Regions from separate parts of the Homo sapiens genome. Here all the other regions are linked to region 1. The links come from fine-mapping of genetic effects on gene expression. A gene starts in region 1. Each other region holds a variant in brackets. All regions are shown on one strand. Distances are between the middles of the regions. Region 1 holds the start of RTN4 (reticulon 4). Region 2 overlaps RTN4 (reticulon 4). Region 3 overlaps EML6 (EMAP like 6). Region 4 overlaps RTN4 (reticulon 4). Region 5 overlaps RTN4 (reticulon 4). Region 6 overlaps EML6 (EMAP like 6). Region 7 has its middle 41 kb from the start of RTN4.

The links.
Region 2: its variant is fine-mapped to the expression of RTN4 in whole blood (INTERVAL, PIP above 0.99).
Region 3: its variant is fine-mapped to the expression of RTN4 in nasal epithelium (TOPMed, PIP 0.98).
Region 4: its variant is fine-mapped to the expression of RTN4 in whole blood (TOPMed, PIP above 0.99).
Region 5: its variant is fine-mapped to the expression of RTN4 in whole blood (TOPMed, PIP above 0.99).
Region 6: its variant is fine-mapped to the expression of RTN4 in lung (TOPMed, PIP above 0.99).
Region 7: its variant is fine-mapped to the expression of RTN4 in whole blood (TOPMed, PIP above 0.99).

The regions. Positions count from the first base shown.
Region 1 is chr2:55,048,160-55,052,631 of GRCh38, reverse strand. It overlaps RTN4 (reticulon 4), which reads left to right and starts at 2,181. Exons shown (of 9, transcript NM_020532.5): 1 at 2,181-2,887. The coding sequence starts at 2,332. RefSeq lists enhancers at 2,351-2,400, 2,363-3,175 and silencers at 2,541-2,600, 2,741-2,860.
Region 2 is chr2:54,997,755-55,002,226 of GRCh38, reverse strand. All of the region lies in intron 3 of RTN4 (reticulon 4), which reads left to right. Among named protein-coding and RNA genes, the nearest start is that of RTN4, 50 kb to the left of the region's middle. The variant C/G (reference allele first, on the strand shown) is at 2,017.
Region 3 is chr2:54,952,759-54,957,230 of GRCh38, reverse strand. It overlaps EML6 (EMAP like 6), which reads right to left. Exons shown (of 42, transcript NM_001039753.4): 32 at 3,075-3,248. Among named protein-coding and RNA genes, the nearest start is that of RTN4, 95 kb to the left of the region's middle. The variant A/G (reference allele first, on the strand shown) is at 2,336.
Region 4 is chr2:55,017,162-55,021,633 of GRCh38, reverse strand. The region is part of intron 3 of RTN4 (reticulon 4); the gene reads left to right. Among named protein-coding and RNA genes, the nearest start is that of RTN4, 31 kb to the left of the region's middle. The variant A/C (reference allele first, on the strand shown) is at 1,905.
Region 5 is chr2:55,009,489-55,013,960 of GRCh38, reverse strand. All of the region lies in intron 3 of RTN4 (reticulon 4), which reads left to right. Among named protein-coding and RNA genes, the nearest start is that of RTN4, 39 kb to the left of the region's middle. RefSeq lists a silencer at 2,823-2,882. The variant G/C (reference allele first, on the strand shown) is at 2,246.
Region 6 is chr2:54,970,388-54,974,859 of GRCh38, reverse strand. EML6 (EMAP like 6) reads right to left here. Exons shown (of 42, transcript NM_001039753.4): 42 at 2,835-4,472. RTN4 (reticulon 4) reads left to right here. Exons shown (of 9, transcript NM_020532.5): 6 at 96-165; 7 at 993-1,039; 8 at 1,239-1,297; 9 at 1,662-2,671. The coding sequence ends at 1,704. Among named protein-coding and RNA genes, the nearest start is that of RTN4, 78 kb to the left of the region's middle. RefSeq lists a silencer at 197-398. The variant ATCTG/G (reference allele first, on the strand shown) is at 1,954.
Region 7 is chr2:55,089,518-55,093,989 of GRCh38, reverse strand. It overlaps a transcript of RTN4 not described here. Among named protein-coding and RNA genes, the nearest start is that of RTN4, 41 kb to the right of the region's middle. The variant T/C (reference allele first, on the strand shown) is at 2,764.

The sequences.
Region 1 (4,472 bases):
AAATTCATTTGGCATTAACTTCCCGCCCCAAAATTCTACATCAATACATCTCTCTTCCTACTCTTCCCAACCCCTCCAAAAAATAACACCAAACTCAAAGCAAGTCACAAACGTTTTGCACAAATAAAGCCAGTTCTCCGTGGAATTAATGTGATAGGTCTTGAATATATTGTTGATAATTAACCCAATCAAGTAACATTGCCAGGAAATCTTTATTCTTTTCCTTTTTTAAAGGTTCATAAACTTTATTTCTTAGAGCAGTTTTAGGTTTACAGAAAAGTTGAACAGGAAGTACAGAGTTCCCATACACTCTCACTCCTGCCCCCTAACCACAGTTTCCTCTATTATTATTAACATAACGCATTGAGGTGGTACATTTGTTACAACTGATGAACTGATATTGATATATCATTAACTAAAGTCAATAGTCTACATTAGGGTTCACTCTTTCTGTTGTATAGTCCTGTGGGTTTTGTCAAATGCATAATGTTATGTATCCACCATTACAGGATAATACAGAACAGTTTCACTGCCCCCAAAATCTTCTGTGTTCCACCTATTTATCCCTCCCTCCAACTCTTACTTTTCTTTTTTAATACCCAAATTAAGCCACAGTAATATAAATTAGTTGGAGCTAAGAATTTGCCAGTGATTCCCCATGGCAATCAAACTTTCTTAATTATTAATCTAGACTAGCACTGTCCAAAAGAAATATAATGTGAGCCATTATGTATTTAAAAAACTCTAGAAGCTGCTTTAAAAGGAACAAGTAAAATTAATTTAATAATATTATACTTATCCCAATATATCCAAAATATCAATTTCAACATTCAGTCAACAGGAAAGCTGAGATATTTTACATTTCGGAGGTACTAATTCTTGAAATCCAGTGCGCATTTTACACTTACAGCACATCTAATTTCAGCCTAGCTACATACATTCCGAGTGTTCAATCAGTAGCCACAAGTAGCCAGTACCTGTCAGGTACAGCACAGATTTAGACTTTGAGCAACTTGAAAGCAGGTTATCCTCTTCTCTCCAGGGCCTCCAGAGTAGGCATGCAGTGAATATTTTTGAAAGGTAAATCAGAAAGATAAAAGGATCCTGATTCTTACAAAGATGTTCTGCAACTACTCTCTTTAAACTCTCCAGCCTCATAAAAAGTGGAATGGGGATCATGCTTATTCCTGCATATCAAACCAATGACTATGGGGCTTCCTGACTCCCAGAAAGCCTGAATCATCCGAAATGTTGACTCATGAACCTAAGGTGACTGAAATGTAACGTGAACCAAATTAGCTTTCCAAGGCATCTTTGTATTTCCACTTTCCTGTCTCCCCGCTGCCTCTCTCTTTGGGTGACTCACTCTCTTACCATGTAAGAGTCCAGCAGGCAAGGCCCCAAACTCTCTTTGGAAGAAGAGCAGACTTTCAAATGGTCGGCCCCAGATCCCTAGTTAATTCAGCACAGCTGTTTTCCTCCCAATTTCGGGGGCTGCGGTTTAGACTGAGTGAGCCTAACTGTCAAAAAACAATTTTTTTCTTATTTTAGGGTGGTAGTAGTAGTGATGTAGTTTGGAACTTTGAGTGAACAAATAATCTTTTATTTCAAAAATCTTTAAAAATCCTTAGGGCCCACTTCCCAGTCCCGCTAATACCTTTCTCCAGTCGGGTTTCTTCCTTTCCCGGGAGGAAAGTTTCCACTCTCAGTTCCCCCAGGATAACGCCCTTCCGGTGGCGCGCCAGAAACCGCGCCGACCCCTCCCAGCCAGCAGCCCGCCCCCTTTCCCAGTGCTCTAACGACATACGGACGCCAGCTGCGGGCAAGGCCAAGACCCCACCCCAACTCACGGTTACCCAAAGTGGGGGTGGAGCTCCCAGCTCTCAGCCCCGCCCATTGAACGCAATCCCAGCCGGTAAGAGAGAGGAAGTGCCGTAGTCCCCACCCACTTTCATCTCCTTCCCTTTCTGTTGGCCCGGCTGGTCGCCTATCTTCTCGATCCTGTAGCCGATTGGCTCTCTCCCTCCCGCGCCAGTCCCTGCCCTCCCCTGGGGAGGGTGAGTCACGCCAAACTGGGCGGAGAGTCCGCTGGCCTCACTCCTAGCTCATCTGGGCGGCGGCGGCAAGTGGGGACAGGGCGGGTGGCGCATCACCGGCGCGGAGGCAGGAGGAGCAGTCTCATTGTTCCGGGAGCCGTCACCACAGTAGGTCCCTCGGCTCAGTCGGCCCAGCCCCTCTCAGTCCTCCCCAACCCCCACAACCGCCCGCGGCTCTGAGACGCGGCCCCGGCGGCGGCGGCAGCAGCTGCAGCATCATCTCCACCCTCCAGCCATGGAAGACCTGGACCAGTCTCCTCTGGTCTCGTCCTCGGACAGCCCACCCCGGCCGCAGCCCGCGTTCAAGTACCAGTTCGTGAGGGAGCCCGAGGACGAGGAGGAAGAAGAGGAGGAGGAAGAGGAGGACGAGGACGAAGACCTGGAGGAGCTGGAGGTGCTGGAGAGGAAGCCCGCCGCCGGGCTGTCCGCGGCCCCAGTGCCCACCGCCCCTGCCGCCGGCGCGCCCCTGATGGACTTCGGAAATGACTTCGTGCCGCCGGCGCCCCGGGGACCCCTGCCGGCCGCTCCCCCCGTCGCCCCGGAGCGGCAGCCGTCTTGGGACCCGAGCCCGGTGTCGTCGACCGTGCCCGCGCCATCCCCGCTGTCTGCTGCCGCAGTCTCGCCCTCCAAGCTCCCTGAGGACGACGAGCCTCCGGCCCGGCCTCCCCCTCCTCCCCCGGCCAGCGTGAGCCCCCAGGCAGAGCCCGTGTGGACCCCGCCAGCCCCGGCTCCCGCCGCGCCCCCCTCCACCCCGGCCGCGCCCAAGCGCAGGGGCTCCTCGGGCTCAGTGGGTGAGTGCCGCGACCTCTCGCTTCGCGCCGCCCCTCGCGCCCCTCCCTCTTTTGTGTGCAGCCCCAGATGCTTTGGGCTGGTCCCTCCTCTCCGCCCCGAGGGCGCTTTGTCTGCGGACTTCGGGGCGATGGCGCCCCGTCTGGTTGGAAGCGCGGGGAGAAGGGTGGGGCGGCCCTTGGAGCCCGGGTTTGTTCTTATTGTCCGTCTTGGTTTCGGGGAACACGTGCACCGCTCCCGGCTCCCACTTTCACCCTGTGTGATGCCCAGCGTACGGATTCTCGGAAGTTAGGCACCCACCCGTAGTAGGAGCCGGGTATATACCCGAGAGCCAGGGTTGTGGATTTATCGGGTTGGTTGGGCTTCGAGGTGAGGAAGGAAAGGCCTTGGCACCCAGATATTTTTAGGAGGTGCTTTTGTCTACCCGTCTGGGTTGCTCCTTTGGAAAAGGTGCAGTTTTGCTGCGGGTCTGTTGGCCTGCATTCTGCCCCGGGCTCCCTCCTCACCTCCTGGCTGGCGTGGGTGGCCCCTTTGCGCTTCCCCTCCCCCTCCTCCTGTGCTCGTGGGGAGCTGGCCGAGTGGAAAACGTCCACATTGACCCAACCGCAGTGAAGGGAGAGCGCCTCCAGTGGTGTGGTGCGTGGAGAAATGGGAAGGAGAGAGTTCTGGTAAAGTCCTGCCACCGCCCAGCTCCCCGGGGTGTGATGTGGACTGCTCCCCACCAGCTAAACCGAGCCAGGGAAAGGGGATCTAGGCATTGTGTTCGAGGGGGCGTAGTTCTGCCGGGGTTTCAGCTGCAGGGTCGGAGGAATTGCTGTTAGTGTGGACTTGGCCCAGCCTCTTAGTGCATCATAATTGAATCTTACAGAAAAAAATAAAAGGCAAAATGGTTGACATTCCTAAAGAAGGGAAAACCTGTGGATTCCTTGCCAGGAATTGGCTAATTGAACTCGTGGCAGATTTACCATGAGACACAGAGAAATGTTTTGAGACAGACATTTTCATATATATTGGTTAGAAATACTGTTTTTCAGAAGGATATGTTTTAGGTTACAGAATCAAAATACGGTCACGTGCCTCATAACGACGTTTAGGTCAAGGACAGACCGCATTTGCAACGGTGGCTCCATAAGGTTGTAATGGAGCTGAAAAATTCCTGCCGCCTAGCGACGTCTTGATCTTGACCCTGTGTAGGCCTAGGGTAATGCGTTTGTATCTTAGTTTTTAACAAAAGTTAAAAAAAAAATAGAAAAAAGCTTATAGAATAAGAATATAAAATTTCTTTTCTATAGCTTTAAAATGTGTTTGTGTTTTAAGTTAAACGTTATTACAAAAGAGCCAAAAAGTTTATAAAATAGAAAAGATACAGTAAGCTAAGGTTGATTTATTATTGAAAAAATATATCTAAAGATAAATTTAGTGTAGCCTAACCGTAGAGTGTCTGTAAGTTGTACAGTAGTACATGGTAATGTCCTAGGCCTTCACATTCACTCACTACTCACGTCCACAGCAGCTTCCAGGCTGGCAAGCTCTGTTCATGGCCAGTGCCCTGCACACGTGTGCCATCTTTTAATCCTTTGTACAGTG
Region 2 (4,472 bases), 50 kb after region 1:
ATTAGCTTGGTGTGGTGGTGCACGCCTATGGTCCCAGCTACTTGGGAGGCTGAGGTGGCAGGATTGCTTGAGCCCAGGAGGTCGAGGCTGCAGTGAGCTATGATGATGCCACTCTGCTCCAGCCTGGGTGACAGAGGGAGACACTGTCTTAAATAAATAAATAAATAAATAAATAAAATAAGATTTGATTGACTTTATCTTGGCACATAAAAACCAATAACTATGAAAATAAATTTATTTTAGTTCATTCTTAACATAATTTAGTTTATAATCACAGCCGTGCATAAGGTTTTAGAATACATAGAGGATGAATCAGGTTTTTGGGATTTAGGGGAATGTAATTTTTGCCACAAAATTGTATACTAGCACAAAATGGCTTCTTTTGCTTTATGGTTGAATTTCACAGTGGGTCATATATAATGTCCCTTTACAAAAAATGTTCAGTGGTTTAAAAATGTACTTTCCTGGGGGCTCTTCCTAATCTTTTGAAGTGAGAGGCTCCGTTTTGAAGTGCCTGTTGGACTGTCAGTGTTTTTTGGAGCAATTCTCCAGCATCACTCACAACATTAACTTTGTGGAATTTCATGTTAATAGGAAGATTTGCAATTTTGCACTGTTGATTTGGGTGGTTTTATCTGACAAGACATTTAGGTAATGAGTGAGGCTGGATGGTGAATTTAAACAGTAAGGGATATTTATGAGCTTGGATTAATTTTGAAGATTACTTAGTGGATGTTTTCTTATTTATGAAAATTTTCTTTCCTATGCAACTTCATAACTGCAGGGACCATTTAACAATACTAAACTTGGGTAAGAGAATCTTGTACTCCTCAAATAGTGTTGGTTACTAGAGAGCTAGAGACGCATATTTTTTAAATCACAAACCATCTTTTAGTTCATGTTATGTGGGGAAAGGAGTATGTGTGTGAAAACACACTCGGTGTTTACAACGATTTTAATTGTAAAGGCCGTTTGTTCTCAGTAATAATAATAAGGTTCTATCCTGGGTGTAGGATTGGTTTTTTAATAAAATGAATAGTAAACATTGACTTAACTTCACATCTTTATGTTTGGCTTCTGTTTCCTGGAGATTTTCTAGAAATGGTATTTTCGTTGCTTTATATGCTGTGTTTGTCAAGTTTATTGCTTATTTAAAAATTTTAATATCATTCTTAAATTCACCAATGTCTTTTTTATCTATTTTTATAGTTCATATGTAATTACATAGATTGTTATTTATAGTATAAATTTATTTTTAAGGTGAGAACAATTCAGATTGCTTCTAGAAAACAATTTAAACAAAACATGGTTTATTCCTATTATTGAATCTCTTAATGAAATTTATTGGTCTCACCTATAACTCTACTCGTAGTGTTAGTAAATTGTGTCTCCTGTCTCAATTATTTAAACTAAGGTAGAAATAGCATTTGGTATTCTCAAGTAGCATAAAAAGAAACTTGAGTATTAATATAGTCTTTTAAATACAAAAGGTATAATAGAGTGAGACCTTCATGGTCAGACTTGAATTTCAGTTTGTAACCCTACACAATTTATTTAACAATATGTTTACATTACAAATGTACAAATACATTTGCATCACATATGTAATGCAGATAATACTTTTTAGAGTTGTTATGGATTCGAGGTAATGTATACAATGTACTCAGCACAGTGCCTTGCTCAGACTGGGAGATTACAAAATTATTGTAGAAAGGGGAAGTATAGAAATTTTGCTGATTGTTTATTAGTGCTATTTGTTTGTCATGTAAAGTGTTATTTTCTTAGGTGTGGTGGTTCAAATTCGCCAAAGCACTGTAACGTTATCAAAGTAAGACAGGAAAGATTTAGTGGAAGAGACAAGGACCTGAAATTTTGCACGTATCTGTTTAAAAACTCTAGTTAAAGGAAGAGGAGATAGCCAAGACAGATGCTGGCTTGCCAGGTATTTGGTTGAGATACTTTTGTAGCAGTAACAGGTACCCATCAGGCTGAGACTTGCTAATTGAAACCTCTTTA[C/G]ATATACTTTCAGAGAAAGTTGAATTCACCTTTTTTAAAAAATCAGGGCTTAGCTAAGCATTACATATAATATTTGATTGCCTTTCTTGACCTTATCTCTTGAGCTTTAGTACCAGTGTGTTCAGTTTACCAAGCATTTCCATATGTGAAATTTCAATTCAGCTTCAAATAATTTCTTAGGGGTGGGTATTATTTTTCTAATTTTACACACAGGGAAACAGAGATTACATTATCTTCTCAGATCATATTGATACTAACCTGAAGGAAGAAATAGGACTCAAAAGAAATAGGACTTAAGGTCCTCTTAATGTCTTTGTGAAGAGAGCTAAACTCTGCACAGATCCTTTTTGTGGACCTTCGCCTGTCAGTTTTTTGACAGGTGAATGCTTACTGTGTTGAGACAAAAGCTTACTATTACGTAGTACTAAATGTTCAATTCTGAATTCTAATTACTTTTCCTGGCATTTGGGAAGAATTTGATTAAGGGTTGTGATTCTTAATAAATATATAATTACTTATTATTATAAACATGGTTGTGAAAAACAACTGAAATTTTAATACCGTTCTAATATTTATATATTCATTTGTTTATTTCCTATTTAACTGCCATTCTCATTCCTCACCTGGCATTATTAAAGAGAACTTAATATTTGCTTTTGCTTCAAAAGTAGGTATTTTTCTGCCAGCCATTCCCTGTCCTAGTATTTTTAGGAACAGCCAGTTTAACTCCCCACTGCCCCGCCTTCCCAGACAAAAGCTTTTTAAAATTGAAACCTGACTTCGGGCTGTTCAAAGAAGAATGTAAGAATTTGATTTGAGGCAAAATGTAATTGGATGACTTCTGCACGTAAGGCATGCACAATGCAGGCTGACACTATTTTTAGCTATGGCAGATGACAGTTTGTGATTACCAAATGTAGGCAGCTCTTCTTACTGTGCATTGAGCCAGAAGTTTTTATTTTAAAGAAAAGATTTAAGTGTACTGAGTTATTTTGAATTAAAATTTTATTTTGATAAAGATGCTATTACACACAGTCATTTTTCACATTTTTATCTTGGAGACAAACGGCAAGGACTGCAGGGCATAAATTACTTTTTTCTAAACTACAAGGGTTTGTTAAAATTGATGAACATTATTTTTAGCAATTCATAAGCATTCCCCCAAAGTTGTAAATGGAAAAGTACTGCTAAATTCATCTCAGATCTTTGAAAGGATGTTTAATGAACATTTTGTATGAGTAAGGTTGAGGCCACAGAATAGGGTTACCTTGTATGATTAACCCTTTATTCTGCAGTATAGAAGGAGACTTGAGGAACCAAGAAAAGTTAAACTTTCCCTGTATAAACTCTTTGTCTTAATTTTGGTTTTTCAAAAATAAGGAACCACTAAAGTGATTACTGAGGAATCCAAAATTAGCATTTTGGTGATCCTGTAGTTCTTATTGAAAGGTGTCCTTTATTTTAATTTGAAAATGAATTTAAATGTTTCTGTTCTAAAAATAATCTGGCCGCTATTCAGACAGTGCAGCAAGCATTAATGATGTAGGTAATGGGAATATAAAGATGAAAGGCATTTATCAGTTTTCCAGGGTCTAGTAAGGGGAGACAAGCCTGCAAAACAGTGTTTTCTTTTTTATAAATTACCTGAAAGCATTATTTGTTATTTAATAAATGTAGACATCTGAAAATAGTGTAAATAAAATAAATGTTAAGTCTAAAGCGTAGAAACATTTTTTAAATAAATCAATTAGAATTAGTGACCTGTCATAAGGTATTCATTCATTCTAATCAGTCAACAGTAATATTGAAAATTTAGTTGTTTTTGGCTTTCTGCTCAGCTCTGGGGATAAAGTTAGGTAGTAAGACATACATGTTCTTTTATGGAGTTTACAACCTAGTAGAGAAGTATGTTGAAATGACTATTTTTTTAAAGTTTTAAATCTATTTCCAGGACATTTTCTTCACCCCCCTCCCAAAAAAAGCCCCCCACACCCTCTAGCAGTCACTCCTCTTCCCTTTTTCCCCAGCCCCTGACAATCACTTATCTACTTTCTGTCTCTACAGAATTCATAACTTGCATATTCAAGGCACTTCATATAAACAGAATCATAAAATATATGGCCTTTTGTGACTGGCTTCTTTCACTTAGCATATGTTTTCAAGATTCATCTGGGTTGTAACATGTATCAGTACAGTAGTTTCCCCCTTATTCTTGAGGGGTAAGACTCTAAGACCCCTAGCGTATGCCCTAGAAACTGCAGATAGGACTGAACCCTATATATACTGTTTATTCCTATCTATACATAACTATGATAAAGTTAAATTTATAAATTAGTTACAGTAAGAAATTAACAACTTTAACAATGAAAGAGAATCATGGTAACAGTATACTAAAGTTAAATGAATGTGGTGTCTTTCTCAAAATATCTCATTGTACTATACTCACCTAATTTTTA
Region 3 (4,472 bases), 95 kb after region 1:
AGTTTTATTTAACCTTTGTCTTAATAAAATTCCAACTCTACCATTTACTTGTAGAACAACTTTAGACAAATTATTTAAGCTCTCTGTGCTTTAGTTTCCTTACCTGTAAGATGGGGCTAATAATTGTTCCTATTTCAGAAGGTGCAGTGCAGATAAAAAGAATTGAAGTAAGTGAAGCCCTGAGCACAGTGCTTGATACTCTGAGTGATCATGTGTTAGCCAGTATTAGTAGTAGTAGTAATAGTATTATCATCACTCCTTTAGCTACTTTTAAAATTTCTTGGCTTCTATTCTTTTAGCCTGTATTTTAAACTCACCTCTTTTTTAATCTCATTATTTTTAAGCTCTCGAGTTTTAAATTTTTGTTTTAAACCTGTTACCCTTTAACTTACTCTGAATGTTTTTGTTCCGATTTCTTGTCACCCCTCCCTTGATTATTCACACACCTATTTTTTTCTTCTTCGTTCTCATCACTTCGCATTTGTTTTTATGACAGCTTTCTAGTACCATGATGGTGGTGGGTTTTGATGTAGCTGGGCCTGTGGCCACCCCTCTGATACTCCCTAACAGAATCTCTTTCCAGGCGAGGCTAGGGGGACCCACAGAGAACTTCTCCCAGCTGTAATTCTCTCTGCATATGGAATCTCTGACTTACTGTAGCAGATCTCTCTCTACTTAGGGCTCAGAGGTTTTAAGACCCACAGTCTCCAAGGATACCATAAACAAAGTAACACAACATACGGGAAGAAAGCACTTGCAATGCTTATAAGATTCAGAGGATTAACATTAGAGATCTATAAGGAACTACAAATTATAAGTAAAAGACAACCCTCCCACTCCAAGTAGTAAAAGGATTTGAACAGGTAGATTACAAAAGCAGCCAATACAAGTGGCCAATGAGATGGAAAGAGATTCCAGCTCACCAGTCATGGGAGAAGTGCAAACAAAGGAAAGAGATTCCAGCTCACCAGTCATGGGAGAAGTGCAAACAAACAATGAGTTGCACATTTTTTCAAAGCCACTGTTTATATTTTCCTTGTTTTAATTTCATGGACGCTTCTAATTGTGGAGACACCTGTATCCCTCTCTGCATTGGCTTCTAGTCTGCTCAGAGCAAATTACACATATACCTAGGACCTGACGACATGGATTTTATGTAATAAGCTCATTTTTAGGTCTATTTTATTTTTACCTACACACACACACACACACGTTCCCCAAAACAATCCTCTAATAAATGAAGAATGAATAATAGGCTCTCTAGTGATACATAAAATGTATGTAAACCTCCCCAAACACATGCTATTTATCTGTAAGTAAGACTTGAAATGAAGGCAAACCCACACTGGAGAAGGAAGGGAGGAGAAATGACATGTCCGTGGTCAACCCGGAAGAGGTGGTGGCTAGCGATAGGTCACATATCAGCACTGGCTCACAACCCTCTGTACAAACAAGAGCAGGCTCCTCTTTTCCTCGGGAGCTTGTTTAAAAGCCCTGGCTCCTCTAACCTTCCCCTGGGAGGTCAGAAGGGACCCTGGGTGAGCAAGAGTCTGTGCTAGGGCAGGCCAAAGCAGGCACTGCTTGGAGGACAGGTAGAGGGAGTGAAGACAGTGAGCCTGAACCTAAAAAGACAAGGCCGTGCAGTGGGGCCAGTGTGAGAGCTTTCTTCCAAGGATCTAGGAACAGTTAGCAGCACAGAAGAAACATATAATGAAGCAATTTCTGTCCCCACATAAGAAGGGGCTTTACGCAAGAGCTTTCTGACAGCGTGTGGGCTGCCTTGTGAAGTGAGGAGAGCCACATCCTTGAAAGTATTCAAGGGGTCCTTGAAAGCCACACCCCTTGAAAGGACAAAGGGGTGCATTTGAAGGAATTTCTCCTTAGGATGGGTCCTAACTGCAGGAAGTCTTCTCTAGTTCTTCCCACTCCAAGATGCTCTCTGTCTATCATTTAAGATGCTCAATTTCTCTGGGCTGAGTCTGGTCAATCAGTTGGCCACTTGACATCACAAGGAATGAATCTGCACCCCTGGGATACTGACTGTGCAGCCATCTGGGTGAGATATACTGGTGAACCAGAGAATGAGAACATGTGGTTTCCTAGAAACATTATAGATCATGTCACCTTCTGAAGGAATATGGTATCATTACAAATGTCTGCAAGCTGTCAGGCTCTTTTCCTCATATGGGGGTGCTCAGGAGTGACTGGAACTTTCCCCCAGTGTGCTGATCTCTTTACAACCTCCACGCACCACCCCCTCCATGGGAAGATGCAGAGATAATGGGACTCCAGAGCCCTGGATGGGAGAAGTGACACCTCTGCGCTTGCCTGGTAG[A/G]GCGTGTCCCAGATACAGGCTGCCTAGCTGCAGACAGACCTCATTAATGTTCTGACTAATTGGATCTGCTCTTGCCAGGGCAGTACCCAACCTGAGAATATATGAGGAGGACTGCACATCTTTAGTTCTAAGATGACCACACATTCAGTTGCAGCTTGTGTGTGTGCATGTGTGTGAGGTGTGTGTGCATGTATTGGGGGAGGACTAGAAAGAAATCCTGTTACAGTAAATGTAAACCTGGATTGTAAGATAAATCCCTATTTCAAAAGTGTTAAAATGTTAAAAAAAAAATTTAAATGTTTCTGAGACTATGATAAAACATGATCCCATTTCCTAAAATAAAGCAGACAAAGTGATAGGGCTGTAGTAGGATCCAGGGGCCATCAGAAAGAGCACGGAAGACAAGGACCCTTGGGTAGGAAGGTGGCTAAGACAGATGTCGGGGAGGCTGCTGCCTTCCGAGGAGGAGGGCTGCCAACATCGGGGAACCTCCTCAGAGCCCCTTCACTAATGGGCCCTGGAGTCCCTGGCCAGCCTCCTCCTGGCCCTGGGACCCTGGGATGCACTGGCATCAGTGGGGCAGCTATACCAGGATCCCCAGTGCCCTGTTTTCCACTTGCCCAGCAGCAGTCAGTGCCTACGGCAGGCTTCGGAGTGAGGCAGATCTGGGTTCGAGCCCACAGGCTCGACACCCACAGGCAGACACCCTGGAGGGACAGAAAGCCCAGTGCTGGTTTACCTTCCTGCCATCGCCAGACAGTGATGGTGTGCTCAGGGTCCACTCCCACCGACACCAGGAGCTTTCCAGTTGCACTGAAGTTGATGTAATTCACCCCCTTGGAGTGGAAGCACCGCAGCATGGAGAGGGTGTGTTTGGTCATGGCGTCCCATATGTGGATGGAAGGTGTTGTCCCTGAGTGTGGAGAGGCATGACAAAGAAGTAAGGCTGACAAATGGCAGAGCCAAGGCGATGCTTATGTTCATGTAAAAGCCTTTTTTTTTTTTTTTTTAGACAGAGTCTTGCTCTGTTGCCCAGGCCAGAGTGCAGTGGCACCAGCTCAGCTCACCGCAACCTCCACGTCCTGGGTTCACACGATCCTCGTGCCTCAGCCTCCCGAGTAGCTGGGATTACAGGCACGCACCACCACACCCAGCTAATTTTTGTATTTTCAGCAGAGACAGCATTTCACCATGTTGGCCAGGCTGGTCTCAAACTCCTGACCTCAGGTGATCCGCCCGCCTCCCAAAGTGCTGGGATTACAAATGTGAGCCACTGCCGCCCGGCCTGCAAAAGCCTTTTTTAAGACAAATGTTTAGGGCTGTTACAGTCATTGGGCATAAGAGACCTATAGCCTGACCTGGCCAGAGGAGAAAGACTAGAGGAAATTTGCTTTTAAAGGCAGAGCCCTACGGACATTTATGTTCAACACACACACACTTGCAGAGGATTTTATACGAAGGAAACTGGTGAGGTCAATGATTTGTATCTGCAATTCGGCAAGATACAATCAGCAAACATGATAGAATGACATGATTTTGCTCTGCAGATTCAAACTACTCACGGATGGAACAGCCTTACCTGGGGTTTCCGTAATATCACCTGCATTGGGTGAGCAATGGCAATGAGGAAGCGTCAAGGGAAAACAATAGCTAAAATAAGTCACGTTTCCAACAGTGAAGCACTCAACACCAGCATCAGAAAGTTCCAAATTAAACTTAAAAATGGACATGATTCAATGAAAACAAGCAGGAAGTTGTAAAAATTGCTCGAGATGACTAAGTGAAAACAAACTTCTCATAAATGTGAATCAGTTCACATTTGTCACCGGCAGTTTCCCAGGGCACAGGGGGTCCAGGCACACTTACTGAAACCTACCCTGGCCAAGCACAATAACCAGCTTCAAAAGACACGGAGTTCTTGACACTTGGGGTCTGAAAAACTATTCTTACAAGTCCACAGGGATGGGGGCCAACGTTTATTTGGACTCTCAGGCGCTGGTCAGACTTTATGGTCCCTCAGAATCACAGTCACTGGATGTGTCAACGCAGGTGACACAGATACACTCAGGACTCAAAAAATCAACAGCAACATCAACAAGAAGGGATGGATGTAAGCAACCCACCCACTCCCTCTCCC
Region 4 (4,472 bases), 31 kb after region 1:
AGGTAAGTAGTGGCCAGTCACAATGGCTTACGCCTGTAATCCCAGCTTTCAGGGAGGGAGAGGTGGGAGGATAGCTTGAGCCCAGGAGTTCGAGACCTGCCTGGGCAATATAGTGAGACTCCGTTCTCCACAAAAAAGGGAGAAAAAAAAGACAAAAAAAAAAAAAAGTGTAAAAGCAGGTAAGAGTTGCTTTAACATGCTTCTATCAGGCACTATATGAGATTTTTTTTTGGCGGGGGGGGCAGGGAAAAAGATGAAACTAAGACAAAGTTTTGCGCTTTATGCAACTTACAGCCAGCTGGTACAGACACACTGTTGAGGACATAGTTAAACATTGTGATCTATGTTATAGTGAGGATAGGTACTTACCTGTGTATCTTCGTGAAAGGGAGGTTCAAGTGTACTGAAGTCAAATGTACCAAAATACAGCAGTGGTCTGATAAAACATAAGGGAAGCTCTCTTCTCAGATGACTTAAAAGTTTTATGCCATCTCTAATTATGAAATATTTAAGTGTGTTTTTAAAAAAATTCTGGGTCTTATTAATGTATATGCATTTAAACATTTAAACTATTAAATAATAAAATACTAATTTCCTCAGATCATTTATTATCTCATATGTTCTTCTTTTCTTTTTTCGAGACAGGTTCTTGCTGTGTCGCCCAGGCTGAAGTGCAGTGGTGAGATTATGGCTCACTGCAGCCTCAACCTCCCAGGGTCAGGTGGTCCTCAGCCTCCCAAGTAGCTGGGACCAAAGGCTCGTGTCACTATGCCTGGCTAATTATTTTTGTAGAGAGGAGGTCTTGCCTTGTTGCCTAGGCTGGTCTCAAACTCCTGTGTTCAAGGATCCTCCCGCCTCTGCCTCCCAAAGTGCTGGGATTACAGGTGTGAGCCTCCAGGACTTTCCTGTTCTTGTTTTCTTAAAATGACATTTTGTAGGCAGAAATCAGTTTTAGTTTTGGGAAGAAAGATTGATTTTGCAAGAGAGATGAATAAGGTATTGTGATGCAGATGGTGCTTTATTAATTTTGGGAAGTAAAGTTTGTCAAGAAACTAATGAATTCTGGTCTTCCTCCCCCTCCATTTACAAAGAAATTTGTGACAAACTATATTCTTACTATTGGAATGTAAATACTGATTTTTTTTCTCAGTAGTAGTATCAATGAATGTTCTTGGCATTTCCCCAATGAATGTTCTTGGCATTTTTTTTTTTCCAAAAATTGATTGGCTATAGATATGTTAATTAATTTCTGGGTTATCTGTTCTGTTCCATTGGTCTGTGTTTCTGTTTTTATGCCAGTACCATGCTGTTTTGGTTACTATAGCTGTGTAGTATATTTTGAAATTTAGTAGTGTGATTCCGCCAGCTTTATTTTTGTTCAGGATTGCTTTTGCTTTTTGGAGTCTTGTGGTTCCATACAGATTTTAGGATTTTTTTTCCTATTCCTGTGAAGAAGGTCATTGGTATTTTATTAGGGATTGCATTGAATCTGTAGACTGCTTTGGATATTACGGCCATTTTTTAACAATGTTAACTCTTATGATTCATGAACATGGAATGTCTTTCTTTGCATTTGTTTGTATCCTCTTCAATTTCTTTCATCATTGTTTTGTAGATTTCCTCGTAGAAGTCTTTCACCTCCTTGGTTAAACTTATTCTGAGGTATTTTTTTTTAAGCTATTGCAAATGGAGTTTCCTACTTGATTTCTTTTTCAGCTAGTTTGTTGTTTGTGTAAAGACATGCGATATTTTTGTTATTGATTTTATATCCTGCAACTTTACAGAATTTACAAGTTTTTGGTAGTCTTTAGGTTTTTCTTTATATAAGATCATGTCATCTGCAAACAGGGACAATGTGACTTCCTCTTTTCTAATTTGGATATCCTTTATTTCTCTCTTGCTCA[A/C]TTGCTCTGGGTAGGACTTCCCATTTCAGTCTTTATTTATTTGTTATGACATTAGCAGTTTTAAAGAACACAGGGCCTCTCTTCCCCCGACTTTATAATAGAACATTCCTCCTAGTGGATTTGTCCGATGTTTCCTAGTGATTAATTTGAGGCTATGGGTTCATTTATGATACTGTATAGATGATGATGTGTCCCTCTCATAGCACCACTTCTAGAGTTATCTGCTATTCATCAGTCCCTCACTGGTTATGTTAATTTTGACCGTCTGGGCAAGATGAGCTCTGATTTCCTTATATTGTCTTTGTTTCTCCCTTGCAGATGATAAGCAGTCTGAGGAGTGACACTTGAACACATGCAGATATCCTGCTCCCTATCAAAATTCGCCCCTCCAATTTAGTAAACCATTGATGATTCTTGCTTGATCCAGTCTTTACCATGAGAGTTGAAAAATGATTTTAACTCCAGTACTCCCCGTACATTTTTCATTTGACCCTCAGCATTCCTGTTTAAGCAGCAGACCTCCATTTCCATTAATGAATTAATTAGCTAATTAATTATCAGTATGGATCCGTGAATTTCCATTTTCTTTCCAATGGTTTATGATTCATTACTGAACTTTATTATTTTGGTGGTAAATTATTGCATATTTTGAGGGTTCCTTCAGGTAGGCTCAGGGACATGCAACCTTCTTTCTTTGGGGTTGGGAGGGGAGCATTTCTTACTTTCTAGCCTAACAAAATATTGTAGGCCTATTTTATGCTTACCGTGTCCCAGCCCTGGAATCAGCCATTTCTCCAAGGATGCCTGATTCCTTTTAATGTAGAATGAGAGGTCATTTTCATAATAGTGAGGTATTAAAGATCAAGAGCTAGATGCTAGTTGTGGTCATTGCTACTGTGGGGATCTTTCCATTTTAACCCTTTCAGTGGATAAAGCTAGGAAATGCTTATATACATACATAAAAATAAACATACACACATACACATACATACTTAAGAAATGAGTTCACATAGATACCTCTAATTCTAATCCATTCTCACAGGGTTTGTTCTTTCTTTCCTGATTTCATATTTGTCTCTTCTTTTATAGTGAGAACCCTGGTTCCTAAGACCACCAATACATTATTTATATCCAGTCCTTTAATACACCTATAAGAGTTTTAGAATGCTTTTTTCATATCACTATAATAAAAAAAAAACTTGATAAAAGAGTTCTGGATTGTTTGCAAATCCCTACTCTGCAACCCTGCCTAAGATGGAATGTATATAGTCAAATACATTATTCACAGATTACTTGTATTAGTTTGTTCTTTTTTCTTTTTCCTGCGTCCTTCTCCCACTGACTAATGGCTATGATATTCATTTGAAATACAATTAGCTTCATTTGTTTCAGTTCTAGATTTTCTTTCTCCCAGTTTTAGGTTTTTAACTGAGAATTTTAAAGTGTTGAGAAAAGCTGAATTCTTCTCATTTTATCTGGAAAGGGAAGACTATCATTTATGGAACATCTTCTGACCAACAAGCACTCTCACATATTTGTTTCATTTAGGTCTTCACCATAATCTGAAAGAAGGAACCATTTTATAGATGATAAAATCTAAGCCTAAGGATGTTAAGTAACTTTTTCAAGGATACCTGGTAAATTATGTAATAAGCACAATGTTTTTGAGCTTCTGCCGTGTTTCAGACATTGGGCTAACTTCTTATTTGTATTAGTTGTTACCTAGTTTCACAAGAATGAACTGCGATTCCAACTCAGGTTTTGTCCGTTCACAGTTATTTCCTGGTTTTGGAATAAGCAGTTATTGTCCTAACTTTAGCAGGCAATCAAGGTGCTACTGCTTTTATCATATATCTGTTGTGTTGAACCATTAGGCAATGTAAGACATTTCTTGACATCTTAAGATGTCAAGAAAGTTGGTTGCCATCTACATTTTCTCACATATGTAAGGATATTGGAACTAGGGTAACATTCTGTTGCTAGTATGTGGAGACTGAAAAACCCTACTTTGGACAACTGCTATCATCTGTTTATGTTGGTAGGCCATTGGTACAGAAAGGTGCTCATGTTTCCTGTCCAAACTGCTGAGATCTTGACTTAATGATAACTTAATATATGTTTGTTGGTTGCTTGTCACTAATGCACAGAGAATATTTTTAGTTCGTAATCGAAATATAGATTGTGTCTTGCTGAACTAATTGGAACTATTGGTAAGTGAAGTGTAAACCGACCATACATTGATTATTTGTTCATTATAATTAAACTATGTAATACCCAGGATTCACCAAGTAGTATTACCATGATCACTCACTTTAAAAGGGCTTGTTTGTCTAGGTAAATAGTACGAAATTAGCTTTGCAAACTTATATATGTTCATGAATAAGAACTTACATATGTTCATGAATAAGAATTGTTTTGATATTCTTACGACTTAAAATATTTTTCTGAAAAAGTATATATAGCCTTTGAGTTTTTTTACTGAAGTACTGTAGATACTAAGAGTTGATATTTTGTTTAAAATATATTTTTATTGAGCAAATAATATTTGGAAAATTTTGATGTAAGTTG
Region 5 (4,472 bases), 39 kb after region 1:
TGGCTGGAAAGTATAAATTATTTTAGCTCTCAAGAGCAGTGTACATAAGCAGTCTCTAACTTTCAGAGTAGCATTTTCAATCCAAATGATTGCTGCTTTCCCACCCTCTTTCCCTTGCATCTCTAAATGTTGTAAAGAAAAACGAAGCAAAACAAAAACCTGAGTTTTTCCTGGGTGCAGAAGTAGAGGAAAGAAAGAAATGGAAAAGGAAGAATGTCTTAGAATAAGAGCTGGCTGGGGTGGACTTAACACCTTGCCTAGTGCTGCCTGTTCTAAAATCTAAAATATAACTTTCTACTGTCTGAAATCTTGCCAGTTAGATACCACCCCCCCTACACCCTCCCCCCCCCCCAAAAAAAAACCCACCAAAAAACATACACACAGTTTCTGAGGTCATAAAAGAGTTTCTTGTTTAGTAGGAATTGATTTATGCGTATTTCCTACTTAACAGGTAAGTGCATGAAGGAAACGAGGGTTTGGTCTGAGATGTGAGAAAAGAAACCGTGTAGGTAATTTTACAGCATATTACCCTTTAGAGCTTATCCCTTCATAAGATGCAAAGGAAAGACATTATGGATATGTATTTGGGCAAGTTTTCATCTTTGATTTTTTTGTCATGCTTGGGAGAAGGGGATACTGGGGACATGGACATTGAGGAGTGGGAAATTGCCAAATATGAACTTTGAACAGTTTATTTCAAAAGTTCTGTATAAAGCTGATTTTGAGTTCAGGAAAAGGAGAATACTTTTCCCCTCTTCTCCCCTCCACAAACACACAATATGAAATAGGGCTTAGAATTCATACAACACTTTTATTGGCTTGCAGTATAAATAAAGGAGTTTTCTGTGGCCTCTCCTTTGTGAGCCTTTGCTTTTATGGGAAAAGAGGTTCCTGTCTCAAATAGTCAAAATGCCATTCTGCAAGTTGAGACATGTGCTCTACTTGAAAATTGTCCTCAAAAGAATTAATTTTTTTAAAAGTTAGGTAGTTGAAGGAAAACAAAATAAATGAAGATAAGTTTTTAACAGATTTATGTCCTTTCTTTATTTGACTTGTTAAGTTGGGGTTCATTGTGGAATAGGACCTATAAACTATGCAGATGTACATTTTTCTCAGCTGGAAAATAATAGAACTATACAGCAACGACAATAGTTTGTGTATGAGAGGGGGCAATTCTGTTTAGAAAGATTGGGTTATTGCCTAGAGTTGAAGGACTTAATATATGAGCTTTCTTAGATGTGCCTTACTTGTCTTGTTGCTTCTTAGTTTGATTGTTATTTTTAGCATACTGATAAGTAAATAGCACTTACATAGTGCCTACTTTTTGTCAGGCAATGTCCTAAAGCCTTCTATTTTTAGTAGAGATTATATGATTTTCATAATAAACATAGCCCATCTGGCTTTACATCTTTAACAAATTTGTGTCATATCAGTTTTTCAGATTTAAGCACTTTTTTGCTTAACTTGCCAAACTTAAAACAAGTCTAGTTGAAAAACTTTGTGAGAAAGAACTGGGCAAAATGTCAGTTGATTTCCACAAGCTAGTTTTCCTTGTACACTTACAAAGACCATAAAAATTAAAGAAGTAGATGTCACTATGTAGGCTGAAATGTTTACTAAACTTCAGGGCTCCTATTTTGACTTTTTAATCTGTCAGGGGTGCTATTAAGTATGTTTAATGTTTAGATGAGTGGGTATGTCTTATTACACATTCTTGCCCCTCTCAGACTTTTTTCTTTAATTGTTAAGCCAAATCAAGTACCACGGAAGATACAAGTAGTCTTAAGTGCCGAGTAACTTGATCACAGTAAAACTTTTTTCTTCTACTAGTGAAGTAATCTCTGACTTGAAAATAGTGTTTGAGTACTATAGTTGAGTGTTTTATTCTAATGCTCGTTATTTATTGGCTTTCAGTTTTAAGGGACTTGTTATTAGAAAGTCAGTATTTTGTATTTACTAAATAGTTTGAGATTCTGAATGTTGCGTGGAGAGGCCAGACATTTTCAGGCCATGATATGGCTTGCTGACCGGGTTCTCAAATATCACATTATGCAGGGGTTCAGTGAATAAAGTTTAAAGTTAAATATTAACTCGAGCTGAGAATACTGGGCTCTTTTAAAAATTACTTTTCTTTATTTATGTTTGGAGTTAGAGAGGCAGATAGGGAAATAAATGTGTCATTGATATTCAAGCCACTTCCTTTTTCCCCTCTCATTTTCCTAATTTTAGTTCTTTCTATGTTTAA[G/C]TCTTACATGTTTTGTTTTTAGTTTTTTTGGGTACATAATAGGAGTATATATTAATATCAAGCCACTTCTGATATTAAGGATTTTGCAGCCCACAGATAGCAGGTTCCAGAAAATATTATCTCTATTTCATTTTAGCTATACAGTCTTAAGTATGTATTTTTGTACATAGGCTACGTATCTTATAGTATTTTCGCAAATTGCATTTTAAAATATTTTAGCTGATTTGTTAGTGCCTTTTCTGCTTAGGCAGATATAAGTATCAGGTGAATTGATTGTGGAACATAAGTAGAGACACTGCATTGGAATGAAAATCAGTTTTATAAAGTTGAACACAGATTTTAAAAATGCTGTACATAGATTTGTTTTTATATTTTTCAGTAAAATTTTAGGCCAGGTGTGGTGGCTCATACCTGTAATCCCCGCACTTTAGGAGGCTGAGGTGGGAGAATTGCTTGAGCCCAGGAGTTTGTGACCAGCTTGGACAACACAGGGAGACCTCATCTCTAAAAAAAGTGTAAAAATAAAAAATTAACTGGGCATGGTGGCACATGCCTGTGGTGACTGAGATGGGAGGATCTCTTGAGCCTGGGAGGTTGAGGTTGCCATGTGACCAATGATTGCACCACTGCACTCCAGCCTTGGTGACAGAGCGAGACCCTGTGTCAGAAAAAAATAAAAAATAAAATAAAATTATAGTTTGCTTTTATGTCATTTTCCCATGGCAGATTATATCATTAGCCCATGAATATATCTCCCCAAGCTAAGAATCTATTAATACTGTCTGTAGAGGTGTCTAATAAATATTCAAAGATTGAGTTGGAGCAGATGATGATTAAGAGTAAGTGTATGTTTGTAAGTCTCTGGATTTCCATAATTGTAAAAGAGGAAAAAAGATATTAGGAAGATTAAGTTGCTAAAGTTTTCTGTTCAAATAATATGTTCAATAAACATTAGTAATTTGACTTTTATTTTCTGTTTATCTCTTCATAAGGTGCAAAATGCTGAATGTTTTACGTCTTAATGAACTTAGGAGCAATTAAGGAGACTCATCATTTCACAAGCTTGAAATTTAGGCTATTAATATTTGATCAGTCCATTTTTATCTTATTAGGTAACCATTAATTTTAGAGTTTTAAATGAAACTGAAAACCAGTAGCATAATTCGACCATCTGTTAAAAAAAGAAAGAAAAAAAAACTGCATATGGCTTTAATTGCATTTCAGATACATTCAGTGGTTAGTTCTAAGAACAACCCTTATTTCCTTTCTTTTGGTAGCCTGCCCTCTCCCTGCAAATGCAGCTCCATTTGGTATGAGCAACAAGGCAAATGCCTAAAACAATCAACAGATAGAAGGAAAGCATTAATGCTGGAGTATTAGTAGCCTAGTTACAGATTGCACTGCGTCAGACTGTTCCACACCCAGAAGACGTCAGGTGACTTCAGTCCTGCTGCAGTTGTGCAGCAGAGGAGACTGCAGACTTCGGTTGAGGAAACGGGTATTTCATGTCTCAGGGAGTAGGTTTGTGCAGTTACAGCTTTTCTGTTGGTATGCATAATTAATAATTGGAGCTGCAAAGCAGATCGTGACAAGAGATGGACGGTCAGAAGAAAAATTGGAAGGACAAGGGTATATCTGCTTTTTAATTTCTTATTCAGTTTTTATATGTGACCACTAATATATTTCTATGAATAAGCTTTGGAATTTAGATATTTTGGATTGAAAGTGAAACCTCTGAAGAGTTGAAGTCTAAAGGATTAAAACGGCTATCTCACGTGTTTTTACATTTGGTTGTATACCAGAAAATGTCATGCTGTTCTGTTTCACTGGCATTCGGTTTAGTCTTTTCAGTCCTGCCGTTTAGGTTCTGTTCTCTAATCTTGCACATTGTAAACAATATAGATCTAACAGATTTCATTTGTTCGTCACTTGGATGTGGTAAATACACATTGCTGTTTTTGTGTTTCACAGTGACATATTTTCCGTGACTATTTTAAAAAACCTTACTTGGTGTAGTTGAAATTCTGTGCAAAGGTTTGTAGGTAGCAAGATATTGTGTTTGCAGTAAGCCTCTTCTTTGAAAATCTGATTTGAACCTTTAAAATTATTACCAACTTTCTTTTAATCAGATTATGTGCATCTTGAAATCATTCAAATTACACAGTATAATTACGCAGTAATTTTAAATGCATGTCTATATTTAAGTCACTAACCTTTGTCCTTGTAA
Region 6 (4,472 bases), 78 kb after region 1:
TGTAGGTAGGCATTTAGATGGGATGCTTTTGAAAGCATAATTAAGAAACTTTACTTGAATTTTGTTTATAATGGGCTAATGTTATTTTCTTATAGTTTGCAGTGTTGATGTGGGTATTTACCTATGTTGGTGCCTTGTTTAATGGTCTGACACTACTGATTTTGGGTAAGTCTACAAAGCCATTGGGATGAAAAATTGCTGGAAAGATTGTGTGCCAGGAGCTTAGACATTTTAGTGGAGAATATTCTCATTGTATGAAAAGTAGGGGATGAAAATGTGGGCCGGGCGCGGTAGCTCATGCCTGTAATCCCAGCACTTTGGGAGGCCAAGGTGGGCGGATCACCTGGGGCCAGGAGTTCGAGACCAGCCTGGCTAACATGGTGAAACCCCATTTCTACTAAAAATAGAAAAAATTAGCTGGGCGTGGTGGCGCACGCCTGTAATCCCAGCTACTCCGGAGGCTGAGGCAGGAGAATCACTTGAGCCCAAGAGGCAGAGGTTGCAGTGAGCGGAGATCGTGCCATTGCACTCCAGGTTGGGCAACAAGAGTGAAACTCCATCTCAAAATAAGTTTGAGGTTGTATTCTCTTTAAATAAGTTGGTGATACTGCTTCCCGGTTTATTGAAATGCTACCTTAGTTGCTGAAGACAGCTCCTACTAACAAACAGTGATAAACCAGATAAAGGGTGGCTTTATATGATGGTGCAGTCATAAATCTAACCAGGGATACCTTTATTTTATGAAATCTCACTGTGATATGATTTGAAGCTAGAAATGGTTCCTAGCTCTAATAACTGCAGCCTCACACAGTTCATTCATTCCTCTGGAGTGGCTCCTCAACAGCAGATGCATCCAGAGATCCTTATGTTTTTATTCATTCATTAGGAACACTGCTTGGTTATCTTGAGTTGCCAGTTTAATAGTTTTTTGAGTGTTTATTCCTCCCAAATCATTCCGTTCTTTTTGAAAAGTTGTATATTTCCCTTTTCAGCTCTCATTTCACTCTTCAGTGTTCCTGTTATTTATGAACGGCATCAGGTAATTTCCTAACTAACTGCTGACTTCAGAATAGAGCACTCACTCTATTACATGGGATTTACGGATGTATTAGTGCCCATTTTCAATGTCTTACAAAAATGAGAAGTGTGATGGTTTCTTAAGCCTTTAGCTTGACACATAGTAGTGGTTAATAAGATTCTTTAGCAACGGTAATAATTCCTTTATACCTCTCTTTCAGGCACAGATAGATCATTATCTAGGACTTGCAAATAAGAATGTTAAAGATGCTATGGCTAAGTAAGTATTTAAAATCTGCAGTGTTTTTACTAGGATAAGGTGTGCTGGATTGTGAGAACAGTATTTTCATATTGCAGGCATAATGAGTAACAAATCTCTATCAGACCTTAAGTGTGACTTCAGAGTTGCCAAAAGATTGTTTTTCTAACATTTGGACCATTCGTTTCTGGGTTTATTATGTGTTTAAGGCTTTGTTTAAATCTAATTCATGAGGCCAAGGTGGCAAAATTATAGCTTAGAATTAGGCAGCTTTAAGGATTTCATTTATTGTATTAGCTGAATAACATACAAGTAGTTCTTGGAAGATGGTATTTTAAGCAGCAGCAAACAAAACTGATATTTACATTGACTTTTTCATTTTCAGAATCCAAGCAAAAATCCCTGGATTGAAGCGCAAAGCTGAATGAAAACGCCCAAAATAATTAGTAGGAGTTCATCTTTAAAGGGGATATTCATTTGATTATACGGGGGAGGGTCAGGGAAGAACGAACCTTGACGTTGCAGTGCAGTTTCACAGATCGTTGTTAGATCTTTATTTTTAGCCATGCACTGTTGTGAGGAAAAATTACCTGTCTTGACTGCCATGTGTTCATCATCTTAAGTATTGTAAGCTGCTATGTATGGATTTAAACCGTAATCATATCTTTTTCCTATCT[ATCTG/G]AGGCACTGGTGGAATAAAAAACCTGTATATTTTACTTTGTTGCAGATAGTCTTGCCGCATCTTGGCAAGTTGCAGAGATGGTGGAGCTAGAAAAAAAAAAAAAAAAGCCCTTTTCAGTTTGTGCACTGTGTATGGTCCGTGTAGATTGATGCAGATTTTCTGAAATGAAATGTTTGTTTAGACGAGATCATACCGGTAAAGCAGGAATGACAAAGCTTGCTTTTCTGGTATGTTCTAGGTGTATTGTGACTTTTACTGTTATATTAATTGCCAATATAAGTAAATATAGATTATATATGTATAGTGTTTCACAAAGCTTAGACCTTTACCTTCCAGCCACCCCACAGTGCTTGATATTTCAGAGTCAGTCATTGGTTATACATGTGTAGTTCCAAAGCACATAAGCTAGAAGAAGAAATATTTCTAGGAGCACTACCATCTGTTTTCAACATGAAATGCCACACACATAGAACTCCAACATCAATTTCATTGCACAGACTGACTGTAGTTAATTTTGTCACAGAATCTATGGACTGAATCTAATGCTTCCAAAAATGTTGTTTGTTTGCAAATATCAAACATTGTTATGCAAGAAATTATTAATTACAAAATGAAGATTTATACCATTGTGGTTTAAGCTGTACTGAACTAAATCTGTGGAATGCATTGTGAACTGTAAAAGCAAAGTATCAATAAAGCTTATAGACTTAAAATATGCTTTGGTATTTTCATTTCATGAAATTGCAGCAGATTAAAAATGCACACAGTGGGTAAACTGCTTCAACCAGCGAATGGTAGCTTGTGCTTTTAGAAGGGTTTTTTTCAGCTGATGGTGCAGCTGTTTGTTTGTTTACTGTGGAAACAAAAGTCAACAAATGTGTTTACATAATCAAATTTTATTTGACACATAAAATGTTTAAGTGATGTGTTTTATACTTTGAAAATAAATTCATGCACCAATGTTTTAACTCACATATATCATACAGTGCAGGATTTATGAACATACATAAAATCAAAATCATACCATATAAACGTTTACAAATAAGTTTTTCATGACACACGGACACTATTGCTCTTTAAATATGGTTGTACATGTCATCATTAATCGATTCATTGTTCTTCCACATGGTTATTTCAATGCAAGATCCGATCAGCATGAAGAGTCTAGTACAAGATAGGCAGACATGGTTATCACTCTGCATCACCAGTCACATGGTTACAGAAAACAGAATTGGGACTGCATAGGGACTCTACTGCGGGCCCAACAACCTATTAGTGGATTGATGTAAGGCATTAGTAAATTGGCATATAAAAATAGCTTAATGAGTGATCTAATCCATTTAGAATGCTGAAGCACTTCTGTGGTAAATGTTAGTCTATTCTACAATTGAAAATGCCTCATTTTACCTTTTCTCTAAACTGACAAATGCAAGTAGCCAGTAACTGTAGGTCTAGAATTTTCGTTCACTGACCAGAAGGACTAATAGGCGTCTATGTGCTCAGAACCACCAGTCCCGCACCAACTCTCCTTTCAGTGAGCACTGTCAGCCACATCCTGTAGTCACTGGTCAGCTACATGGAAAGTGTGACTGAGGGGCTTACGGATGGCTTCTGGTAAAGATTGTCCAAGTCATATTCCGTCATACAACCAACTCCAAGGAACTCTAACTCACTTTATAATTTTGATTTACCAGCTATTCCTTGGGTTTACAATTTGTTCTGCAGATAATTTTTTTATAATCTGGACTTGACCTATATAGTTCGCCTGAAGCAATCAAATGAAGTCACCTCAACTCCACTCAGGGTGGTACACCAAGGTGCAGCCTTGGGTTACCCTCATTTATCTTAAGATTTAACGAGATAAGTCAGCTCATTCTCATAGACCTTCCTGAGCCTTTTTCCCCTTCCATTTTGTAGTAGAAGTTTGTTTAACTTGAATTCTATTTTGGATTTTGTGGGTTTGGCATGAAACACAATGAAAACCCATAATTCTACCCTGTCCCGAACTTCAATTCCTTTGCTGCTCACCTTCCCATAAGCAGGTAACCGATGTCTTTCATTTAGGAAGCCTTGGCGTGAACACAGGACAAGGGTGACACACTGAATCTGCTAAGGGTCCTGCAGCCCTCCTCAGCTTTGAGGTTTTAGCACCATATGGAGAAAGGAGAAATTGGTGGGAGGTGAGACAGCAGCCCACACAACTGGAAACTTTCAAAGGCACTTAATGGATATAAAACTCTGCAAATGAAACATTTAAAAATTAAGTTTCTCAACTCCTTTATACATGGCTCATTTGGTTTTGAAAGCTAAACTGGAGAACAGAGGCTAGCGATATTTCTAGTACTTCGGTGCATCTAACTTAGGCTGTCTTGTTCAACTTATTTGTAAAAATGAACATTCTTGAAGTATATAGAAACAATAGCAAAACATCTTTGTAAAAGTTTTGATGCAAATTAAAAGCTACATATTGGTTAGGGTAACCGAGGCTTCAAAATTCGTCAGCGGGCTACATTA
Region 7 (4,472 bases), 41 kb before region 1:
TGATCGTAAGAAAATTGTGACTCTTTCATGCTATTTCCATGTCCCTCTCATATTCCATTTATAAATAGAATAAAAGCAAGAAAATTCTCTTCCTTATAATTCCTTTCCCAATTCTATTTCCCTTAGAAAAAGCAAACCATTCAAGTAACAGAAGCATAGCTAAATGAAATGCATTATATCCTTGCCAGACCTTAACAGGGAGTTAGTTAAGGGGCCCTCAGACTGCCTTCCTCTGGCTGTAATCAGAGGAGGAAACAATTGAGACATTTACCCTTTTTCCTCTTACCAATTTCTCTTCTCCTTTTCTCCTTCATCTCTGACTCTTTCCTAATCCCCCCTGGCCTCGTGGAGGGAGAGGTGTTGGTACCCTTGTACTCTCCAGATCTCAGGAAAGATGCAGATAATGACTCAGGGCTTCCTCCGGAAGAAGCATCACCTCTAAGCTATGCTGCGGAATCACTTAGAGGTTATGAGTGCAAGAACTTCCCTCAGCATAATAAACACCTTTCTGGCGTAACAGGAGAATGAAGAATACTTTCTTTGGGCCCAGGGACATTATTGCTTAATTTATTCTATATATATATAAAATAAATTAAATATATATAGAATAAATTATTTAAGTATAAAATACACACATATGTTTATGTGTTTGTAAATAAAACAACATACAGGTATACATGCATTTAGCCATTTAGAGTTCAACAGCATTTCAGTTGTATTTTTTAGCATTTCAACCACAAAAACTGTTGAACTAGGCACTTACAGGTATTACTAAGAGCAAATACAAATTCTATATTAATGTGTATGACATTTCTTCATTAAAGAGCTGTCACTATAATTGGCTGGCCCACGAATGTGCATCATAAGCTATCAAAACACAGACATTTTCAAGCAGCTCTTAGAACAATGCAAGGCTCTTATCTTCTGATATTTTACACACGTACACACACACATAGACACACACACAATGGTTATTTTTATTAGTGGTCAGAACTCAGTAAGCAACACTGAATAGATAAGTGAAAAAGTGAATTTTTAAAATCAAACAAAAAAGTTTTACCCATTGGGAAAATGTCTGTGAAGAAGAAGAAAATGCGAAGGGGCAAAACTGGCTACTTTGAAAGAATAAAACTTCACCCCATGTGAATTTTCCTGGGGCCGCTTCTAGCTCTAGTGTGAGGCCTCTGCTTTCTCCAGGGGAGCCCCCAAACTGAAATTGGAAAAGGGCATCTACATATATATGTGGTCAGTTTTACCTGGCTTACAGGAAGGAGTTAAATGACAAAACTCTAATGAGTGAGGCTTTTACCAGGTGCCACAATTGGGTGTGGCCTCTGACAGAGGGCAAGCAGGAAACAAGTGAAACTCAGGTATACTCATTCCACAAGTTTGTGTTGAGCACTTTTTTCTGCCAGGTAGTGTTCTAGGAGCTGGAGATAAAAAATCTCTTCCTTCGGGCCGGGCACGGTGGCTCACGCCTGTAATCCCAGCACTTTAGGAGGCCGAGGTGGGCAGATCACCTGAGGTTGGGAGTTTGAGACCAGGCTGACAACATGGAGAAACCCTGTCTCTACTAAAAATACAAAATTAGCCAGGGGTGGTGGTGAATGCCTGTAATCCCAGCTACTAGGGAGGCTGAGGCAGGAGAATTGCTTGAACCCAGGAGGTGGAGGTTACGGTGAGCTGAGATCATGCCATTACACTCCAGCCTGGGCAACAAGAGGGAAACTCCAACTCGAAAAAAAAAAAAAGAAAAGAAAAAAAAATCTCTCCCTTCATTGAGCTTCCTTTTTTTTTTTTAAGTCATGGTCTCACTCTGTCACCCAGGCTGGAGTGCAGTGGTGCCATCTCAGCTCACTGCAGCCTCAAACTCCTGGACTCAAGCAATCTTCCCACCTCAACCTCCCAGGTAGCTGAGACTACAGGCATGTGCCACCAAGCCTGGCATGGTTTGGCTGTGTCCCCACCCAAATCTCAACTTGAATTGTGTCTCCCAGAATTCCCACATGTTGTGGGAGGGACCCAGGGGGAGGTAATTGAATCATGGGGGCCAGTCTTGCCTGTGCTGTTCTCGTGATAGTGAGTAAGTCTCACGAGAGCTGATGGATTTATCAGGGGTTTCCGCTTTTGCATCTTTTTTATTTTTCTCTTGCCGCTGCCATGTAAGAAATGCCTTTTACCTCCTGCCATGATTCTGAGGCCTCCCCAGCCATGTGGAACTGTAAGTCCAACTAAACCTCTTTTTCTTCCTAGTTTTGGGTATGTCTTTATCAGCAGCATGAAAACAGACTAATACACTGGCTAATTAAAAAAAGTTTTCTTTTTGGAGAGACAGTATCCTGCTATATTGCCCAGGCAGGTCCCAAACTCCTGGGCTCAAGCAATCCTCCTGCCTCGGCCTCCCACAGTACTGGGATTCTAGGTACAAGCTACTGCAGCTGGCCTGAGCTTACATTCTAATGAGGACAGGAAGATGAAAAATTTGTAATCAAGCAACAAGTAAGTGTTACAGGAAAATAAGATAAAGGGTAGAGAGTGAGCAGGGGCTAGAAGTTTAGGGATTGGGGCAGACAGGTGAAAATTTAAGGGAAAAGCATTCCAGGCAGAAAAATAGCATGTACGGAGGCTCTGAGGCAAGAAGCTTTATGTGTATGTGGGAAGAAAGGGCCCAGTGTGGATGACACCCTATGAATGGAGGAAGAAAGAGGTCAGAGTGGTAAACACGGCCCAATCACGTGGGGCCCCCTAGGCCACAGAGAGGAA[T/C]TTGGATTGCAATGGGAAGCCATGAATGATTGTAAATGGTGGAGCCATACTGTCCGATTTATACACAGACACACCCCTTTCTGGCTGCTACCACCAGGTAGTGAAAAGGCCACTGGTGGCCAGAGGAAAGACAGGGCAACTGGTTAGGGAGGTTTTTGCTCTAGCCAGTTGAGCAAAACTGGGAGTTCAGTTGAGGACTGGTGGCTGAGACTTCTTGGGTGGAATCAATGGAGATGTGCAGAGAAGTTGAAAAATGTCAACTTGGGATGTGTCTTGGAGGAGGGACTGACAAGGCCTGCTGATCTCCTGGATAGAGAGAATGAGAGAAAGCAGAACCAAGGATGACTCGTAGATTTGGGGCTTGAGCAACTGAGTGGATGTGGGGCTGGTAACTGAGGTGGAAAAGACTGAGGGAGAAGCATGTTTAGGGGGTGGAGCCGAGTTTGGTTTTTGGCCATTTTAAATGGGAGTTACTTATTAGATATCTAAGAGGAGAAATTGTATGAGCAATTGGACCCTGGGTCAGTGCGGAAGACAGGTCTTTGGGAACCATCAGCTGTAGTCCTCCTTGTCCTTTAGAATGGGTCCAAAGCCCTACTCCATATTTCATGGAATTCTCAAGCTCTTGAGATGATTTTGGCGAAACTTCCAGGTGGATAGAGGGGAGGTGGAGACTTCATTCTCATTGCCTTCTGTAGCTCCAGCTTCTGCTTTGGTTGAATTGGCTCCGTTTAGGGACTATCTCTTCTTCCTCCATGACGTCCTCTTCTCAGAGAGGAAATTCAGCCACTTTCTCTATGTCCATACGCAGTCAAGATATTGAGTGTGCAGGGAACTGCATTAAAGATTTGCTGGAAGCAGATGTGAGCGTGTGTGTTTGGAAATAGTGTGAAGGTAATACTGTAACCCAAATTATATTAAGTGGAATATTGGGTCTCTCTGTTTTAAACTGTCTTGGGCCACTCTACCTAGGGGACATTTGGGGATAGTTCTATGGCCTTATCATACCTCCTATTCGCAGATACTGGACTTCTCCAGGTAGAGGAATTCAGCTGTCTCCACTCCAGCCCTATCCTTCCACTCAAAACAGCCCCATCCTACTCAAAACAGCCCCAGATCTATTTTACAATTCAAATCTACCAAAGACTCAGGAGAAAAAAAAGACTTTCATTAAATAAATCTCTCCTTAGAAAACATGTGTTCTTCATGAAAAGTAAGCCTTTCTCAACTTTAACAATTCCTCGTGCCTATTCTAACATTCAGACAGCTGCTTGGGGTGGGGACCAGGGGAGGGGAGTCAGTCTAGTTGCTGCTGTCAGTCAGTGATCTCAGTAATGGGGAAAATGTTCCATGCCCCAGGTGTCCCAGGGGGACCTTTTTACCACATGCCTGGAGAGGCCAGTGACAAGGAGAGGAATAAGACCTCCTCCCCAGGCACAAGGACCACAGTGCTGTGCTGAAGAGTGGTGGCCAGAAGAAGGCAATTTGTAGAATGGCCTTGCTTTGGAGGTGGGCTTGTATCTCAAGTGTTTGCATTTCGCAGATTTGGGAAATGACGACTAGAAACAGAAATAGCTAAAGCACTAGACATGCAGTTGACAACATTCACTTAGTTGGAGCAGGACGTCTCTGTCCCTTAAACGCTGAATTTTAAGTACATCCAGACAAGGAGACAGATTTTTCCGTAATTGATAAATCCGTTAATTACC